Regions from separate parts of the Homo sapiens genome. Here all the other regions are linked to region 1. The links come from fine-mapping of genetic effects on gene expression. A gene starts in region 1. Each other region holds a variant in brackets. All regions are shown on one strand. Distances are between the middles of the regions.

Region 1 (4,111 bases):
GATATTTCTTAAAACACATCTCCAGACACATTTTAAAAAATGGCTACTATCTCCTACCAATTCTTACACAGAAACCAATTTCACTTCTAAATGCATCCAAAAAAGAATACTCCTTAGGGCAGGAGCCACATTTGAAAACCTTCAACAGCAGCCTCAGAGCAGGAAGGGCCAAAAGGAAGGAATAAAAATGGAAACTCTAACTCATAAACCCCTTGGTAAAGAAAAAGGTGCAAAAAAGTTGTACCTTCACATTTACAGAAACACTCTAAACTTTTTTTTCAGGGGGAAAAAAAGCTAGGACTGACAAATGAGAGAATGACTTTCACATAACCCCAGTTTGACTTTATCACCCAAATAATTTAAGAGTTTCCACTTCTCACAAAAATCAATACAAAAACATCATTCTTACTACTTCAGGGACAAATTTCCTTTCTCTTTTATGTATGCGAGGATTTGGGTTTGTTTTAAGGTCTGAACTGGTTAAATTTAGTGTTCTGGCAGCTGAAAAACAATCATCATAATTCTCAAGTTCTCCATCCTATTCAATCTTTGCCACGCTAAGCTGCATGAAGCCATGGCTCCATATGGCTTAAACACATTTGAGACCTGGTGTAGGATCACATTAAACCCTTCAGTGCCTATCAGATACACAATAACCTAATTAGCTAGCAGAGCACATGTGACAGTGGCCTGGCCAGAAACGCAGTGGAAGACACTTCCTTCAACTCTTTCACCAAAGACGAGGTGAGCACTTTGCAAAGGGGAACTGGGAGAAAATAGGGAAAGGTGGAGAGGAAAATGTGGAGGGAAGTGTGCAGCTAGGGTTTTCAAAGAACATTACAGTAAACAGAAATGGCACCCACAGGGGGTGCACTGTAGAAAAAGCAATCATCTTTTTTGCAACACATACAATGTGGAATAGATGACCTCTCTGAATTTTGCACCTCTAACTTTCCACTGAACCTTTCAGAAAGTTACTAGTGAGGTTGAGGTCTGAGGAGCTTAAGTGCCCAAACCACATTTTGGTGTCATTTCCCTGCAAAAGAAATGCGGTATCTATGCCTAACTGCCAAGGTATTTTAGCTCATATACAGGGATAGATAAGCTTCTAAAAAATTACATTTGTTTCTCCTACCAGATATTCCCAGGCTGTGGCCACCAGATTTTCAAACAGCCTAGGGGTAAAGCATTAAACACGAAGTGAGTACAACAAAATTATTCACAGACAAGAAAAGTGTGGATGCTAATGGGTAACACTAAGGGAAATAAACACATGTTGTTTTTAATCCAAGACAAACCAAAACCCTTAAAAACACCTATTTTATAACTCTTAACAACCACAGCCTCTGTATCAAAGACTCAAGAACTTGGATTTACCGAAAAGTCAATTTGCAGTACCAAAATTACCGAGATTAGCCTCTGGCTGTCGACACTGACTTAAGAACCTGCTTTAGGCTGGAGCTGTTTAAAATTTAAACCAAAGTAAACTCCTTCAGGACCTTAAGACTACTGACTGTACTTTAAATTTTTTCTGCACACTGAAGAGGGGGCAGGCAGGCTTCGGTACCCAGATAGGCTGTAAGCAAAACAAAGATTTGTTGATTTGTGCGTAGACTCTAAATTGCTGCTGTAGGTCCGTTAAGTAAGAGAAAACTCTTTTTCTCTGTTAAGTCATACAGATAAATTTAGTCGGTAGCTCTGCATAGAAAGTGGGGACAAGCGTGCCCTGAAGGGCCGCATCATAACGCCGACCCCGGCTCGGTGGGGGCCAGTCGGCAGCTTCTCTCTTCAGCCGTGGGCGCTGGGGCCGAGCACGGTGGAGAAAGGCCGGCGAGCCGCTGGTTCCCGGCCTATGGCTACTCGGGCGAGGCCTAGGAGAGGCCGCGCCGGCTGAGGAAAACCGGTAAATGCGAGGAGCTCCCACACCCTATCTGCAATCCGGGACTCAGAAGCCCTCCCCGAGGCCAGGGCCCGCACCTGCCGCCCCGCCCGCCGCGCCTCAGGCCTCTGGCCCGTGGGACTCACAGCTTCAGCTGCTCGTAGGCCGCCGTCGCCATCCTGCACAACCACCTCCTTCCTTCTCTCTCCGCCCGCCCCGCCCCGCGCCGCCACCTCGGCTACAACTCTACCGGTCACCCTGGCACAGCGGCCGCAGCTCCCAGCCTCTTCCCACCCCTTTCCCCGCCCCGCAGGAGAGCCGGCCTGAACGGGAGGCGGTGGAGGACAAATTAGTGCGCAAGCAAGAGCACGCGAGAGATGCCGCCGACGCGGCGGGTTGGAGTGCGACGAAGAGCGCCGTGACGAAGCCGCTGCGGATTGGTGGGGCGCGTTTTGGGGAAAGGCAGAGCAGCGGGAGCGCGGCGCAAGGGCAAAATGGATCGTTGGTACCCGGAAGCCCGTTCAAACTGTATAAGGGTGATCAGCTATCACGGAGAAGGCTTTAGCAAGTCGGGGCCAGTGGCGCAATGGATAACGCGTCTGACTACGGATCAGAAGATTCTAGGTTCGACTCCTGGCTGGCTCGCGATGTCTGTTTTGCCACACTTGACCCATGTACTACTGGGTCTTGTAAAGATGTATATTCACAATGTGAAAGTATTACAAGACCTTGGAAAGGTGTATGGTTAGAATGTGAAAGTTAAATATCTGAAATTTTGATGCCGCTTTGCTCACAATGTCATCCTTTATCCTTTAAACCTGGAGTTGTCTGAGGTGGTTTGCAAACTGCAAAGCGCCCTGTTCCCAATGATGCACCTGAGAAGTCTGTAAATGGGGTAAATTTAGGCAAACACACCTGGAAAAGTGGCATTTTGGAGTGGGGAATGCTGTGGCCGGAGGTTAGCAACCGGATGATGCAAAAGCGTATTTAAGGCAGCAGTTCTGGCCTTTCCCCGCCACGGAGCAGAAGCCCCCATAGTGATGTGAGAAGCGGCGCTGTCCCAGTTTACTAGGATGGGATGGGCTTTGGATCTAACCAGCAGCGAAGAAAACCTGCGGTGCGGCTGCGCTCGGTAGTAGGGGTCCACAAAGCGTCAGAATCTGCAGCAGCCCCGGCCTTTGCGAGCTCCAGCTCCGAAGTCAACCCGGCCCCCAAATTCCACTGGGAAACCTTAAGACACCGGTGTTTTTACCGTAAGAAGACCTCAGGTAATCTAGTATATTACCCCTCATTGTATGGATGCGCGACTTGGACACCCGAGAAGGCGCGAAACGTCTGCGGCCTAAAGGGACTCGAACCGGGGGATTATATGAGTCATCGGACACTGTCCGTTAACCAATCACTCAATCGATCAATTAATTTCCGCAACATAACGTTTTCCCCTGATAAAATTATAGATTTTTAAAATATATAAAATTATTGGGAATATTAACGCGATTCCCACCCTAAATCATTACTATTATTTTTTTTTTCCTTAAAGCCTTTTTTTCTTCTATATTTTTTAACATGGGCATACTTGCACATGTGTTTTTCCAAATTGGGGTTGTACGGAAATGGGTTCCTCATTTTGTCTCCTTACCTTTTTGTCTGAGATTTAAGGTCATTAAATATTCTTTGAAGATATTTCATCAGAGAGCTAGATATTTTAAGCAGAATCCTTATGCTGGGAATTTGGGTGGTTGTCAGTTTAACACCTAGAAAAAATGATGCTGCTTAGGAGTTCGAGACCAGCCTGGGCAACATAGCAAGACCTCATCTCTATTTACTAAATAAATAAATAAATTTTAATTAGCCAGGTGTGGTGGTGTGCACCTATAGTCCTAGCTACTCAGGAGGCTGAGGTGGGAGGATCACCTCAGCCCAGGAGGTTGAGGCTGCAGTGAGCTGTTACCATGCCACTGCACTCCAGCCTGAGCAACAGAATGAGACCCTGTGTTGAATTATTATTATTTTGAGACGGAGTCTCGCTCTGTCACCCAGGCTGGAGTGCAGTGGCGTGATCTCGGCTTACTGCAGTCTCTGCCTCCCGGGTTCAAGCAATTCTCCTGCTTCAGCCTCCCAAGTAACTGGGACTACAGGTGTGTGCCACCACGCCCGACTAATTTTTTGTATTTTTTAGTAGAGACGGGGTTTCACCGTGTTAGCAAGGATGGTCTTGATCTACTGATCTCG
Region 2 (4,111 bases), 160 kb after region 1:
GCCCAGGAGCTCAGGACTAGCCTGGGCAACACAGTGAGACACCATCTCTATAAAAAGAAAAAATACAAAAATTAGCCGGGCGTAGGGGCATGTGCTTACAGTCCCAGCTACTTGGGAGGCTGAGGCACGAGGTCTGCTTGAGCCCAGGAGGTCAAGGCTGCAATAAGCCCAGATTGTGCCTCTGTACTCCAGCCTGGACAACAGAGTGAGACCCTGCCTCAAAAAATAAAAATAAATTTAAAAAAATTTAAAAGATTTAAAAAATCAATTATACTAAGAAAATAATGAGTTATTTTCCTCATATATTCCAGAGGATTCATGTTACTTGGATTAATCTATTAGATTAATAGATTAATTCTTTCTTATAGTTTTTTATCAGTCTACATATATTTTTCTTAACTGATCAGATTTCCATGGTATTAACCTTTATTTGACAACATTAAGAAGACTATCAACTCACAATAAATCTTAACTGAAATAAAACAAATGTTGGTGTCAATGTGGTTTTACAGAAGAAAAATATGCCAGCCATTATCAGTCAGAAAATATAGCAGAAAGAGATTCTATTCTACAAGAACACAAAAGAAAAGAAAATACTTGAGACAGACCATGAGCTAGGATGAAAGTTTGGATGAGGTAAAGATGTGAAACCTTCCTGAATTAATTCTAAGTTTAACCACATTTCAATTGAAATGTCATGGTGATTTTGGGGAAACTTAACAAATTATGCAGAGTTTTGCTGAGAAAAATAAACAGGTGAGAAGAGGTAAAATAATTATAAGAAAAGAAATGAAGAAAGGCTAGTCTGCCAGGTGTTAAAACTGTCTGTAAAAATGCAATAGTTAAATCATTGAAGCACAATGTACAATTCAAAAACAGATCCTAGAGTGGAAGATGGAATAACTTCTTAGGAAAATAATTTGTTAATATATATCAAGAGTCTTAAATAGATTCATATCTTTTCCACTTCAAGGAAATAATATGAAGTGAGAACAAGATTTATGCACAGAATTGTCCATGGTGGATTGTTTATGGGAGTGAAATGTTAGACACACTAAGTCATGGCACACATGGACAATTAATGCAGTTTTTTTTTTGAGACGGAGTCTTGCTCTGTCACCAGGTGGGAGCGTAGTGGTGCGATCTTGGCTCACTGCTACCTCTAGCTCCCGGGTTCAAGCAACTCTCCTGCCTCAGCCTCCTGAGTATGTGACTTCACAGGCACATGCCACCATGCCCAGCTAATTTTTGTATTTTTAATAGAGATGGGGTTTCACCATGTTGGCCAAGATGGTCTTGATCTTTGACCTCATGATCCGCCCGCCTCGGCCTCCCATAGTGCTGGGATTACAGGCGTGAGCCACAGCGCCCAGCCTAATGTGGTTATTTTAAAAGTTTATATGTTAAAAAAACAAAAACAAACAAGCAAACAAACAAAAAACTCCAAATATCATATTCTTAAATATCATATTGTTAAACTGGAAATACTGAGAATTTAATTTTTTGCTAACCTGAGAAACCGACCTAAGCCCAGTGTAAAGCAAAGATGGTCAAACTGTTGCTCTGTGTTCTGACTGACTCTCTGAAGTCGTGTTTTGACTGACTCTCTGAAGTCTGTCCAGACAGGATGCACTAGGGCTCTGATGCTGACACCACCACCACAGCCTGCTGCTTGAGCTCCTCTAAGACATATCTCCTCGCTCTGGGCCCAGGTGTATGGGCCCCTGTTACCCATCCTCACAGCTGCAAAGGTGTGAGCAATCACTCAGGATTTCAAAGACATGGGATGGGCCCAGGTTGGGCTACTCCAGTTTGCAGAATGGGTTTATCACAAAGGGATTGAAAAGTCCATATTTAACATCTGGAATCATAATATCTGCTCATGTTTCTGTTCAGGCATATTCACAGAAGACCCAGAGAATTTCTGGAATTTGATTTGAGAGTGTGCATCAAAAGCCTTAATCTTTTGTATCTCTTCTGACCAAGCAATTACAGTTAGTTATGTGTTCTTAGGAAATAATTTTGCACGTAAACATTAGCTATTTAGCATTTTTTTTTTTTTTTTGGAGATGGAGTTTCGCTCTCATTGCCCAGGATGGAGTGCAATGGCGCAATCTCAGCCCACCGCAACCTCTGCCTCCTGGGTTCAAGCGA[T/A]TCTCCTGCCTCAGCCTCCTGAGTAGCTGGGATTACAGGCATGCGCCACCACGCCCGGCTAATTTTGTATTTTTAGTAGAGCCTGACGGCTGGTCTCGAACTCCCGACCTCAGGTGATCAGCCCACCTCAGCCTCCCAAAGTGCTGAAATTACAGGTGTGAGCTACCGTGCCCGGCGGCTACTTAGCTTTTAAAAAAATAATGTATAACTATAAACAGTTTGAATGTTCAATGATAGGGAGTGCGTAAATTCAAACAATGGAAAACTGTATGACCATTAAAAATGATGTTGTAGGCCGGGCGCGGTGACTCACATCTGCAATCCCAGCACTTTGGGAGGCCGAGGCAGGCAGATCCCCTGAGGTCAGAAGTTTTGAGACCAGACTGGCAACACGGTGAAACCCTGTCTCTACCAAAAATACAAAAATTAGCCAGGCGTGGTGGCAGGTGCCTGTAATCCCAGCTACTTGGGAGGCTGAGGCAGGAGAATCTCTTGAACCTGGGAGGGGAAGTTGCAGTGAGTGGAGATTGTACTACTGCATTCCAGCCTAGGCAACAGAGTGAGACTCCATCTCCAAAAAAAAAAAAAGATGTTGTAGAAAAGTATTTAATGGCCCATAAATATATGTTCATGGAATATTTAAGTGAGTAAATCAGGTTATAAGATGACCTCTCGCTTAACAATAAAACAAGTCATCAATAAAAGGGAATGAACTACTATAAACAGAACATGGATTAATCTCAAAAGCATTATGCTAAATGAAATAAAACAGAAATGACTACACATTGTATGATTTCATTTATATAACATTTCTGGAAAAGGCAAAACTACAGAGACAGAAAGATTAGTCATGCTGGGGGTTGGAGTGGGTGTGGGATTGACTAATGGTGTGGGGAACCTTTTTTCAGTAATGGAAATCCAGTTCTAAAACTGATCATGGTGATGGGTGCACAAGTATATAAATTTACTTAAAACACTGAGTATATACTTAAAATGGGTAAATTTTAGGGTATTTAAATTTTATAAAGAGACATGACAAAACACAACACAACACAGACAAGTGGACACAAAATACAATACACATAGGTAAGTGAACACAATCATTTTACTTTTTCTATGTTTTGTGAGACAGGCTCTTGCTCTGTCAGCCAGGCTGGAGTACAGTGGCATGATTATGGCTCACTGCAGCCGTGAACTCCTGGGCTCAAGTGATCCTCCCACCTCAGCCTCCCGAGTAGCTGAGCCTACAGACACATGCCACCACATCCAGATAATTTTAAAATTTTTTGTAGAGATGGGGTCTCCCTATGTTGCCCAAGCTGGTCTTGAACTCTTGGGCTCAAGTGATCCTCCTGCCTGGGCCTTCCAAAGTGCTGGGATTACAAGCGTGAGCCACTGCACCCAGCCACCATATCCACTGCAATGATCTGCGCTAAGATGCTGATGGTGGCTGTTTATTTCTAGAGGGTGATGGTTAGGGGATTTTTATTCTCAGTCCTTATCATCTGGGAACTGGTCTGACAATTATAGCTAGGCCTCAGTGTTATAAGAAATTCACCAGTTGTGCATAGCTAGGCCATATTATTCTCCTGTTCAACACAAATGATCTCACTGAACACCAACATCAGACAGTCACACTGAAAACATAAAAGGAGACCAAAACAAGACCATGTCATAATTTTGTCAAAGCACAAAGACAAGGTCACTGTGAAACACACAAAATATCAAACATCCCCTTCTCTAGGCAGATATGAGGGACTGCTATTTCTTTACTAATTACAACTTTATCCTTGCTCAGGTGTATCTCCCTAAAGATAAGATTTCTTTTTTTTTTTTTTGAGACGGAGTCTCGCTCTGTCGCCCAGGCTGGAGTGCAGTGGTGTGATCTCGGCTCACTGCAAGCTCCACCTCCTGGGTTCATGCCATTCTCCTGCCTCAGCCTCTCGAGTAGCTGGGA
Region 3 (4,111 bases), 52 kb after region 1:
CAGCATCTAGAACTGTGAGAAATACATTTCTATTGTTTATAAGCCAACCAGTGTATGGTACTTTGTTATAACAGTCCAAACAGACTAAGACGCTCATCAATTGGTTTTCCCTCACCAACAGCTTCCCTAATTCAAATGGTAACTGCTTGAGGTGGAAAACAGCCTCTCCTTAATATTTATTTTCTTTTTCCTGAAAAATAGAGCAAGTATTGAGAAACTGTTGTAGGAGTCAAAGGTCAAAGATAAATTGTAAACAAAGATCTGATACAAGCAGCCAACAAACATGAAAAAAATGCTCAAGGGTCAGGTGTGGTGGCTTATGCCAGTAATCCCAGCCCTGTGGGAGGCTGAGGTGGGAGGGTCACCAGAAGTCAGGAGCTCAAGACCAGCCTAGGCAACACAGCGAGACCTCTGTCTCTACAAAAATTTTAAACCATTAGCTGGGCATGGTGGCACATGCCCGCAGTCCCAGCTACTCAGAAGCTAAGGCAGAAGGGTTGCTTGAGTTCAAGGCTGCAGTGAGCTACAATTACATCATGGCACTCCAGCCTGGATGACACAGTGAGACCCCATCTCAAAACAAAACAAACCTCCACATCATTATCATCAAAGAAATGCAAATCAAAACCACAAAATGGCCATTATTAAAAAGTCAAAAAGTAGATGTTGGCAAGGCTATAGAGAAAAGGCAATGCTTATACACAGTTGGTGGGAGTGTAAATTAGTTCAGCCACTGTGGAAAACAGTTAGGAGATTTCTCAAAGAACTAAAAATAGAGCTACCATTTGACCCAGTAATCCCATTACTGGATATATATGCAAAGAAAAGTACATCTTCTACCAAAGATACCTGCACTCGTATGTTTATCACCACACTATTCACAATAGCAAAGACATGGAATCAACCTAGGTGCCCATCAGCAGTAACTGAATAAAGAAAATGTGGTACATATACACCATGGAATACTACACAGCCATAAAAAAGTGACATCATGTCCTTTGCAGCAACATAGAAACACAAGAAACAGAAAACCAAATAGCTGAAAAACTTTCTACTGGGTACTATGTTCACTGTGTGGGTGACAGGACCAATAGAAGCTCAAACTTCAGATTCACACAATATACCTTTGTAACAAACCTGCACGTCTTGAATCTAAAACTAAAATTAAAATTTAACTAACTAAATAAATAAATAAAGGGGGGCCTAAACACAACTCCCATATGGATAAAACACAAACATGTGCCAAAGACTTTATTTAACTCATCAATTAATAAAGGAACCAATTAATGGGTTTAATGGGGAGAATTCAAAGAACCATAGGCCATCAGGAATGTTGAAATCAATTTGCTAAATAGATTGCAAAACTGGTCAATCTCCACAGGGTAACAATCATCAACTGCACCTCACCAGACAGTCTGCATTGCTATAGACAAGAATGTGTTGTACCATCAATATTCTACAACTTACAGAGTGCAACATAGCTCAAAGACAAGGAAAGGCACAGAGACCCAGAGAATTCGATAACCAGACCACTCCTAGATTTCCACTGCGGACATTCTCATAGTCTTTCCCTACACAGGTGAACACTGATCAATGTGTAAACCATAAACTCTCAGGCATGTGTTCTAAGGCAAATTGCAGTGAGGACTGAAGCATGAGGTTCAGAACTCAGGCCTGGACCATCAAGGCTCAGCAGGTTAGGAGGCCACTGGTTAACCACA[AT/T]GCACTGGTTAACTTTATACTGGGAATTAGGATCTCTGGCTGTGAGCAAGTTCTTCCCCTTCCCTTCTCCAGAAGGATTCAAAATGAGGATCCCCAAACCAATGGTAGTCAGCCCTGATCACACCCTGGAAGTATCTGAGAAGCTGTGAAAAAATACACTTGCCCCACTTGGGCGGGCGCAGTGGCTCACGCCTGTAATCCCAGCACTTTGGGAGGCCGAGGTGGGTGGATCACAAGGTCAAGAGATCGAGACAATCCTGGCCAACATGGTGAAACCCCGTCTCTACTAAAAATACAAAAATTAGCTGGGCGTGCTGGTGCACATCTGTAGTCCCAGCTACTCGGGAGGCTGTAGCAAAAGAATCGCTTGAACCCAGGAGGCGGAGGTTGCAGTGAGCTGAGATAGCACCACTGCACTCCAGCCTGGGTGACAAAGCGAGACTCCGTCTCAAAAAAAAAAAAAAAATTAATACACTTGCCTCACTCTAGAAATTCCAAGGGTGATGCCCTGGCCCCACCCTTGATTAGCAGAATCAGATTGAGGTTCCTAGCTAATCCTATCAGATTAGGATTTAGCTCTGATTCTGATTAGCAGGGTTTTAAAGTCTCCACAGGTGATTCTAATGAGCAGCCAGGATTGCAAACCACGGGGCCAGATGGTTAGAAAGACCCCTTTGTTCCTGACACCCTGTGACTCTGCTGTAACATTCCCTTTTAGTTGAGAGCTGTTAGCCTCAGTATAGGATTGAGAATATAAGTAGGACATTTTCCAAAAATACTCCTCAAAATTAATCTTTGATAGAGACAGAAAACAAGCAAAATCCATAACTTGGTCAGACTTGGCAAGCATGCAATGTGTTAGAATCTTCCACGGGGAGCGGTTGCCATCCATTCAATCCAGACTCCTGATGGGCTGCTTGAATTATAATGCATGTACTGGAGTACAAAGATGCCCACAGGTGTGTGCTAGGTAGGCACCAGCACATGGGTGGCATGCACACACACCTCATGCTCATACAGCAGCCTCCAAATCAAAGATTAGGTTAGGGAGGTGGTTACAGAGTAATAAAGGACCCCCACCTCCACCTCACACTGGGGTAGCTGACTGACTAATCACTTTTGGTTGGCTGGTCCCCACAGTGGGGGAGAGAACTGACAAACAGGGTAGACATGGTGAATCCCAGCACTTCCTCCCAAATCTTCTGAAACCTCTTCTTACATATTTCAAACCTGATGTGATTAGGGATCACTCTGAACTCATTCAACTTATCACCAGAATCACAGGCAATCTTTGGTATTGTGTTAAGTCACCGTGCCCTGATGGGCTTCTGTTGGTGGTAAGAAACCCTGCTGTAAAAGACACTGTCTGGCTTTTCTGTGGGGCTGAGGAGGGCCATGGACCAACCGTCTCCAGAAAGATGATCTCTCTCCTCCCTTTCTCGGTTCCCATGTTCCTTACGCATCCCCCACACACCCGACACCCACACCCACACTTACTGCAAGCTGCACAGGTGAAGCATGTGTCATGGTAGAGGTTCCCCATGGCCTGACAGGCCTGGCCAGCCCCAAACACCCCTTTGCTGCATTTCACACAGGCTCCTTGCAGGACAAGAGAAACATCAGTGAGTCAGGAGGGAACCAGTGTAAACTGAGTCATAAAAAAGCCAATGAACAAAGCATAATACCATCCCTCCCCATGGCCAGCCCACCACCAAATCCAGTGGATGACTCATTTGAAGTGTCTTTCTCTCCCTCTCCCTCTGTCACTCTTTCAACTGCAGAAAACAGCTACCAGGCTGGACTTTAGGTCCCACTTTCCCTGCCCCACTGTTATGCTAATGTCCAGAATTCCTGGGCTTGGTCAACTCCCTCCCTCACCCCACCCAAAGCTTTCGAAGGTTCCCACTGTTTGTAAGACAGTTCAGAAAGATTGCACCATCACTATAATATGCCAAGCATGCAGGTTGGGAAATTTCTTTTTTCCTCCCTTTTTTTTTTTTTTTTTTTTTTTTTTTTGAGACGGGGATCTTGATATGTTGCCCAGACTGGTCTTGAACTCCTAGGCTCAAGCAATCCTCCCGCCTCGGCCTCCTAAAGTGCTAGGATTACAGGTGTGAGCCACCATGCCTGGCCAGACAATTCCAACTAAATTATTTCCTTTAATTTTCAGTGGGAACCACCAACTAGGATTTAGTAACCTCAATTTTTACAAAAAGTATATCACACCCCAAGCCCTGGGTTTGTCAGACTGCAAGCAAGTGCTCTTCCCTGCCCTTCTACCAGCAGCTCCTCACCCCCTAACAAGTCCCACAGGGTCTTAGCCCAGCCTTTGCTGATGGGCCCCTACCTAGTACATTCTACTCCTGCCCTTCTGTTCACTCAAGTCCTG

Evidence for each region. PIP is the estimated chance that this variant, and not a neighbour inherited with it, causes the effect.
Region 2: its variant is the best candidate, but not a certain one, in a credible set for the expression of SACM1L in whole blood (TOPMed, PIP 0.54).
Region 3: its variant is the best candidate, but not a certain one, in a credible set for the expression of SACM1L in whole blood (INTERVAL, PIP 0.67).

The regions. Positions count from the first base shown.
Region 1 is chr3:45,687,412-45,691,522 of GRCh38, reverse strand. It overlaps SACM1L (SAC1 like phosphatidylinositide phosphatase), which reads right to left and starts at 2,127. Exons shown (of 20, transcript NM_014016.5): 1 at 2,026-2,127. The coding sequence starts at 2,057. LIMD1-AS1 (LIMD1 antisense RNA 1) reads left to right here and starts at 2,641. Exons shown (of 3, transcript NR_033947.1): 1 at 2,641-3,147. It overlaps TRR-ACG2-1 (tRNA-Arg (anticodon ACG) 2-1), which reads left to right and starts at 2,452; the gene lies at 2,452-2,524. RefSeq lists a silencer at 1,936-2,115 and enhancers at 2,146-2,435, 2,696-2,745, 3,256-3,325.
Region 2 is chr3:45,527,505-45,531,615 of GRCh38, reverse strand. The region is part of intron 20 of LARS2 (leucyl-tRNA synthetase 2, mitochondrial); the gene reads right to left. Among named protein-coding and RNA genes, the nearest start is that of LARS2-AS1, 20 kb to the right of the region's middle. The variant T/A (reference allele first, on the strand shown) is at 2,155.
Region 3 is chr3:45,635,360-45,639,470 of GRCh38, reverse strand. LIMD1 (LIM domain containing 1) reads right to left here. Exons shown (of 8, transcript NM_014240.3): 2 at 3,220-3,321. Among named protein-coding and RNA genes, the nearest start is that of LIMD1, 43 kb to the right of the region's middle. RefSeq lists an enhancer at 120-414. The variant AT/T (reference allele first, on the strand shown) is at 1,722.